Linked DNA regions of Homo sapiens. The protein of the gene in region 1 purifies or fractionates together with the protein of each later gene. This does not show direct contact. Each region holds a gene or a part of one and is shown in the gene's direction. Other genes may lie near its edges.

Region 1 (3,751 bases):
GCCAGAATAATGTTCCTGGAGCACACCTAGTCATGTCGCTCCCCTTCTCAAAAGATTTCAAGGGCTCCTGACTGCCTGCAGACTAAAGTTTCGACTTCTTAGCCTGATCATTAAGGCCCTCTATGATCTTGCACTATCCTGAAAATGCCCATCAAGGTGCCTGCCTTGCATGTAATCAGTAGGCAACAAATAATTTTCTGCACAGAAGAAAAAACAAATGAGTGTGGGTGAGAAACAATGCGTTGCTTAATTCTGGCTTTACCATGCTAAGCACTGGGGATGCAGTGGTACCAAAAACCAGGCATGATCCCTTGCCTTCAAAGAGCTTAGAGCCTAGTTAGAAGAGCATGATTTTTAAAAAGAAATGAAAGTATATAATGACAAATTATAAGTGCTAAGAAGGAAATGACTAGAGGGCAGGGATACAGAGTAAAACAGACGGGTTAGAAGGAGGCCCTACGGAGAGGGAGCCTGTTGTGGGGCTGGTCCAGGCAGAGGTACCAGCACATGCAAGGTCCTGCGAGACAAATGCGGTGTGTCTGAGAATCATAACAGGGGCTGCCCTTTCAGGCTTACCCAGAAAATAGATATCCTGGGAGGAAGGTGGCATAGGGTTCACCTTCCAAGTCACTTAAAGATGAAATGCTGCATTTCTTTTCCCTGATATAGGTCCTTCACCGGGATCACGGATGAGTTAGCGAGCAGGGGATGCTGCGGAGTCGCTGTGAGTCCAGCACTGGAAATCAGACCAAGCGAAATTTGAATCCCAGCTCCGCTACTTCCCGGCTCTCAACTCCCTTGACCTCCAAGCCTCTGCTTCCTGAGGTATAAAGTGGGATTAAGGATGGCAACAACTTCGTGATTACTGTTGAGGGAGATAATGCTTGCCAAGCTCCCCAGCACACTGCCACCCACATCAGTGCGCACCTGAGTATCAGCGGTTTTAGGATTACGATGACTATTACTATCGTAAATTACTCCCAGCTTTCGGGCAGAAGGCTCATTCCAGATATTCCTGTCCCCTCTGAGGCCTCCCGACCCTGCCAGCCCAGGCAACCTCCCCCGCGCACGGCCACCGTGACCCCAGCGCGGGCGCCGCCGCCGGACCCCCGTTACCTGGGGCCAAACGCGACTTGTCGCCACCTTGCGTCCTGGGCCCTGCCTCCCTCCCGGCCGCCTCCCGACCCCGCGGCTGCTGCGGAGGCGCCCCCAGCCCAGCCGGGCCCAGGCGGTGCGGGATGCCTCGGCGGGGCTGGCGGCGGCGGCCGCGCTGCGCGCTCCGGCGGAGGGGAGGGGGCTCCGCGGCGGCGGCGGCGGCGGCGGCAGCGGCGGCAGCGGCGGCGGCGGGCCCGGCGGGGGGCAGAGCCAAGAGGCGCGGCGGCAGCAGCGGAGGAGTAGGAGGAGACGGAGGAGGATGCGGGGGGCTGCGGACGGTGGCGAGGCCCTGTCCGCAGTGAAGCCCGCGGCGCCTAGGGCGCAGGGAGTGGCCGCCTCCTCCTGCGCGCACCATTCCTGAGATGGCGGCGGCGGCACAGCGGCGGCTCGGGGAGCCCAGGAGGGGCCGGCCGGGAGCGGGCTGAGCCCCGCAGGACGGGGAGCTCGCCCAGGGCCGGCGGAGCGGCGGAGCTCGGGCCGGGCGGCCTGCGGGAGCGGCGAGGCAGGGGACGGCCCCGGGGCGGAGCGCACGGCCTGGTGAGGCCGCGATGGCGAACGCGAGCGAGCCGGGTGGCAGCGGCGGCGGCGAGGCGGCCGCCCTGGGCCTCAAGCTGGCCACGCTCAGCCTGCTGCTGTGCGTGAGCCTAGCGGGCAACGTGCTGTTCGCGCTGCTGATCGTGCGGGAGCGCAGCCTGCACCGCGCCCCGTACTACCTGCTGCTCGACCTGTGCCTGGCCGACGGGCTGCGCGCGCTCGCCTGCCTCCCGGCCGTCATGCTGGCGGCGCGGCGTGCGGCGGCCGCGGCGGGGGCGCCGCCGGGCGCGCTGGGCTGCAAGCTGCTCGCCTTCCTGGCCGCGCTCTTCTGCTTCCACGCCGCCTTCCTGCTGCTGGGCGTGGGCGTCACCCGCTACCTGGCCATCGCGCACCACCGCTTCTATGCAGAGCGCCTGGCCGGCTGGCCGTGCGCCGCCATGCTGGTGTGCGCCGCCTGGGCGCTGGCGCTGGCCGCGGCCTTCCCGCCAGTGCTGGACGGCGGTGGCGACGACGAGGACGCGCCGTGCGCCCTGGAGCAGCGGCCCGACGGCGCCCCCGGCGCGCTGGGCTTCCTGCTGCTGCTGGCCGTGGTGGTGGGCGCCACGCACCTCGTCTACCTCCGCCTGCTCTTCTTCATCCACGACCGCCGCAAGATGCGGCCCGCGCGCCTGGTGCCCGCCGTCAGCCACGACTGGACCTTCCACGGCCCGGGCGCCACCGGCCAGGCGGCCGCCAACTGGACGGCGGGCTTCGGCCGCGGGCCCACGCCGCCCGCGCTTGTGGGCATCCGGCCCGCAGGGCCGGGCCGCGGCGCGCGCCGCCTCCTCGTGCTGGAAGAATTCAAGACGGAGAAGAGGCTGTGCAAGATGTTCTACGCCGTCACGCTGCTCTTCCTGCTCCTCTGGGGGCCCTACGTCGTGGCCAGCTACCTGCGGGTCCTGGTGCGGCCCGGCGCCGTCCCCCAGGCCTACCTGACGGCCTCCGTGTGGCTGACCTTCGCGCAGGCCGGCATCAACCCCGTCGTGTGCTTCCTCTTCAACAGGGAGCTGAGGGACTGCTTCAGGGCCCAGTTCCCCTGCTGCCAGAGCCCCCGGACCACCCAGGCGACCCATCCCTGCGACCTGAAAGGCATTGGTTTATGAGGGAGGCCCCGCCACATAGACCCCCAACCCAGCCTTTCCCTTTGGCTCGGACGGTGACGTTGTATCTTTTCCTTCTGGCCCCTGTTTAATTTTCTAAGCTGCCTTCAAAATGACTCGAAGTGGACAGACACTTGGATTGTACTGACTCCTTTGGGGGTGGGGTGGGTGAGGAGTAGGATGCTCAGCCCACTCCAGCTCCGCACATTCGTCCTCCTAACTCGACTTTCTTCCTGACAATAGGCCCTGCAGTCTTTTTGTAGCGGTACTGACGTCTTTTATTCCATGTGTGGTTCCTTTTTTTCTTTTTCTATAAAGGCTGTACTAATTTTCTTCATGCAACGTTTCCTAAAGACCATGGCCAGTTTTCTACAGAAGCTATTTTTGACAACCTCAAGTGGCATTACATTTTGCAGTGAAGTAGAGGAACCTAGGGGGACTTCTTCACAAGTTAGATTTCTTGAGGATCTTCTGTTGGAAGCAGGAGAAAGTGGGGGGTGGGGGGAAGTTGTCCGAAATGCCCTCTGAATTGCCGGCTGCAGGGTCCTTGTGCTGCGCTGGTTCTTTGAAAGTCTCAGTGTTGATATTGAACTTAAAGAGCAGAGATGGAGATCAGTAGCAAGGCAGTCATTTTTTTAAAGCAGTAAGTAACAAGTAAGATTTGGTTCCCGGTTTACTTTCTGCTGCTAAAAACCACGTCAGTGACAACTGCTCTCTGTATTATAGCAATCTTGAATGGAAACATTTCTGTCAAGTTGTAAGTTTTAAAAGAGTAAAGTGTTTTGGTTAGTAATGATGTGGAGAAAAATACAGTATTGCATGTGTTCGTGTGTATAGATTGTGGTTCGAGGATTGGGAGGGCTCTGAGAAGCAGAGTACTACATCAAAATTGTTTTAAGTATTTTTTGCCAATAAAAAATTAA
Region 2 (3,651 bases), on another chromosome or scaffold:
ACACACACACACATACACACAATAATGTATACCTAGAGCAGCCACTATAGAAGCTGTAAAAAGAGATAACTCAAAAACACCATAGATAAATTAAAATGAAATTCTAAAAAATAGGTAACCTAAGGATGGCAAGAAAAAGAAAACAGAGAAATGAAGAACAGAGAGAATGAACAGAAAACAAAAAATAAAATAGCAGACCTAAGCCCTAACATATTAATAATACCATTAAATGTAAATGGTCTAAATATACCAATTAAAAGATAGTGATTGGTAAAGTGGATTAAAAAACATGATCCAGGCTGGGTGCAGTGGCTCATCCCTGTAATCCCAGCTACTTGGGAGGCTGAGGTGGGAGAATTGCTTAAACTTAGGAGGCTGACGGAAGTTGCAGTGAGCCAAGATCGCGCCACTGTACTCATTCCAGCCTGGGTGACAGAGCAGGATTGTTTCAATAAAAAAACAAAACAAAACAAAAACCATGATCCAATTGTCTGCTATTTTCAGTAAACTCACTTGAAATATAATGATATAGGCCGATTAGAAGTGAAAGAGTGGAAAAAGATATATCATGCAAACACTAATCAAAGGAAAACAGGATTGGCCATATTAAAATTAAGGCAGATATCAGAGCAAAGAAAATTATTAGAGACAGAGAGGGACATTATTTAGTGATAAAAGGGTCAATCTATGAAGAAGATGTGACCATTCTAAATGTATATATACCAAGTAACAGAGTTGCAAGATAGATGAAACAAAAATTGAAAGAATGGAAAGGAAAAATAGATCCACAATTATAACTGGAGACTCAACACCCTTCTCTCAACAATTGATATAACAACAGACAGAAAATTTGCAAGGATGTAGATCAACAACATCATAAGCCAAAGGATTTAATTGGCATTTATAGAATACTCTACCCAACAACAGCAGAATACACATACATTTCAAGTGCCCATGGAACATATACCAAGGTAGACCATATTGGCTATAAACAAACCTGAATATATATAAAAGAACCGAAAATCATACCGAGTGTGTTCTCTGATTACAATGGAATTAAACTAGGAATTAATATTAGAAAAAAGACAAGAGAATGTCCAAACACTTGGAAACTTAAAGAGCACTCTTCTAAATAATCTATATGTCAAAGGGAAGTCTCAAAGGAAATAAAACAATAAATTGAACTGAATGAAAATGAAATTGCAACATATCAAAATTTGTGGAACATAGCTAAAGCAGTGCTGAGAGACAACTCCCAGCAAGATATTTTTATAGACATAGGCAAGATTATTTTAAAATTTGGATGGAAAGGCAAAGAACCTAGAATAGCTGTATTAGTTTGCTAGGCATTTAGATCAGACAAATGAAGAGTATGTTCACACACACACAAAAAGTACACAAATGTTTATTTTATATCAGCTTTATTTGTAATAGCCAAAAACTACAATTTGCAACAGGTAAATGAACAATGATACACCTATACCGTGGGATATACTATTCACCAATAAAAAGATTGAACTGCTAATACATGAAACAACCTGGATGAATTGCTTGAGAATTATACTGAGTAGAAAAAAGCCAATCCCAAAAATTAGATACTGTATGATTCCATTTATATAAAGTATTCGAAGTGAAAACAACTGTGGCAGTGAACAGTTGAGTGGATGCCAGGGACTACAGAAGGGGTGAGGCATAAGAGAAGCAATTGTGGCTATAAAAGGGCAACACTGTGGGATCCAACATGAGGACAACATGTGGTTATGGAAATATTCATCATGTTTTACTATACTGTCAATATCCTGATTTTTATGTTGTATTATTTGTAAGATGTTAAAGTTGGATAAAATTGAATAAAGGCTACAGGAAATCTCCCTTGCTTCCTCCTTCCTTCCTTCTTCCCTCCCTTCCTCCCTCTCTCTTTCCTTCCGTCCTCTTTCCCTCCCTCCATTCCTTCCTTCCTTCCTTCTTCTTTTCTTTTCTTTTCTTTTTTTTTTTTTTTTTTTTTTTTTTTGAGGCAAGGTCTGACACTGTTGCACAGGCTAGAATGCAGTGGCATGATCTCGGCTCACTGCAACTTCTGCTTACCAGTCTCAAGCCATCCTTCCACCTCAGCCTCCCAAGTAGCTGGGACCACAGACATGAGCCACCACACCCAGTTAATTTTTGTATTTGTCGTACAGATGGGGTCTCAACACTTTGTTGCCCGGGCTGGTCTCAAACTCCTGAGTTCAAGTGATTTATCCACCTTGGCCTCCCAAAGTACTGGGATTACAGGTGTCAGCCACTGTGCCTGGCCTGTATTATTTCTTAAAATTGCTTGTGAATCTGTAATTGTCTCAAAATAAAAAGCATATTCACTTCCTTAGTTCATTACAGATTCTCTCTTCCTGTTTATTTATTATTGATCCTTATTGTTAAATGTAGTAGAAACTTTTCTGTTTTTATACTAATCTCTTCAAGATTTGACTTTTCTTATTTTGAAGTCCTTGGCTCAATGAATAACTGAGACAAGTCATTGCATTTTCCTCTGACTTCTTTGATAGACTCTCTCTTGGTTTTCTTCCTCCCTCTCTGGCTGCTCCTTCTGGAGCACATCTCCCTCTTCACTCTTGTCACCTTGTATTATATTCTCACTACATCTGCCAAAACTCCAGTTATAGTACTACCCCGGTCACACCCTTCCGTTGGCTTTCCACCTGATCCAGAATAAAAGCTGGTCTTTTTTTTGGCCTAAACTCCACCTGATCTGGCAGCCTATTTCCCCTCTGACCTCATCGCCTGCTAATCTTCCTCTCATTCATTTGGCTGCAGCCACATTGGCCTCCTGGCTGTTCCGAGATTAAACCAGATACTTCCTTTGAGGGCTTTTGTACTTCGTGTTCTTCTATTTGGAATTTTCGTCCTCCAGGCAACTGCATGGTTTGTTCTTATCTCAGGTCTTTACTGAAAAGTCCCTTCATTGAGGTTTTCCTTTGGCCACCCTATTCAACAGCTCGTACCCCCAACACTGAGACTCCCTATTCTACTGTCATGCTTTATTTTTTTCTAGATAGTCATCATCATTTATTTGTTGTCTGACCCTCCCAACCAGTGTAATCTCTATAATTGCATGAATTTTGTTTCTTATTTAGTGATGTGTATCCAAAACCTAGAACGGGGTCAGCAAACTTTGTCTGAAAGATAATAAATATCTTAGGCTTTGTGGGCTCTATGGTTTCTGTCACAACTACTCTTTTTGGAGAATGAGAGAAGCCATAGATAGTAAGTAAATGAGTGGGCATGTTGTGTTCCAAAAAAGCTGTTTACAGACACTGAAGTTTGACTTTCATGTAATTTTTTTTTTTTTTTTTTTTTTTTTTTGAGATAGAGTCTTGCTCTGTTCCCCAGGCTCTAGTGTAGTGGCGCAATCTTGGCTCACTGCAACCTCCGCCTCCTGGGTTCAAGCGATTCTCCCGCCTCAGCCTTCTGAGTAGCTGGGATTATAGGCACCCGCCACCACACCCAGCTAATTTTTGTATTTTTGTTAGAGATGGGGTTTCACCATGTTGGCCAGGCTGGTCTCAAACTCCTGACCTCAAGTGATCCACCTGTCTCAGCCTCCCAAAGTGCTGGGATTACAGGCGTGAGCCACCACGCCCAGCCTAATTTTCA

Evidence for each region. Proteins that work in one complex are often made in the same cells at the same time.
Region 2: the proteins of GPR27 (region 1) and ANKRD13C purify together in Homo sapiens (affinity purification with mass spectrometry; one large-scale study listed by BioGRID and IntAct). This does not show direct contact.

The regions. Positions count from the first base shown.
Region 1 is NC_000003.12:71,752,347-71,756,097, forward strand, and holds the start of GPR27 (probable G-protein coupled receptor 27), read left to right. Parts: upstream 1-1,508; 5' UTR 1,509-1,703; coding exon 1,704-2,831; 3' UTR 2,832-3,751. UniProt on the Homo sapiens protein: Orphan receptor. Possible candidate for amine-like G-protein coupled receptor.
Region 2 is NC_000001.11:70,264,185-70,267,835, reverse strand, and holds part of ANKRD13C (ankyrin repeat domain-containing protein 13C), read left to right. Parts: intron 1-3,651. UniProt on the Homo sapiens protein: Acts as a molecular chaperone for G protein-coupled receptors, regulating their biogenesis and exit from the ER.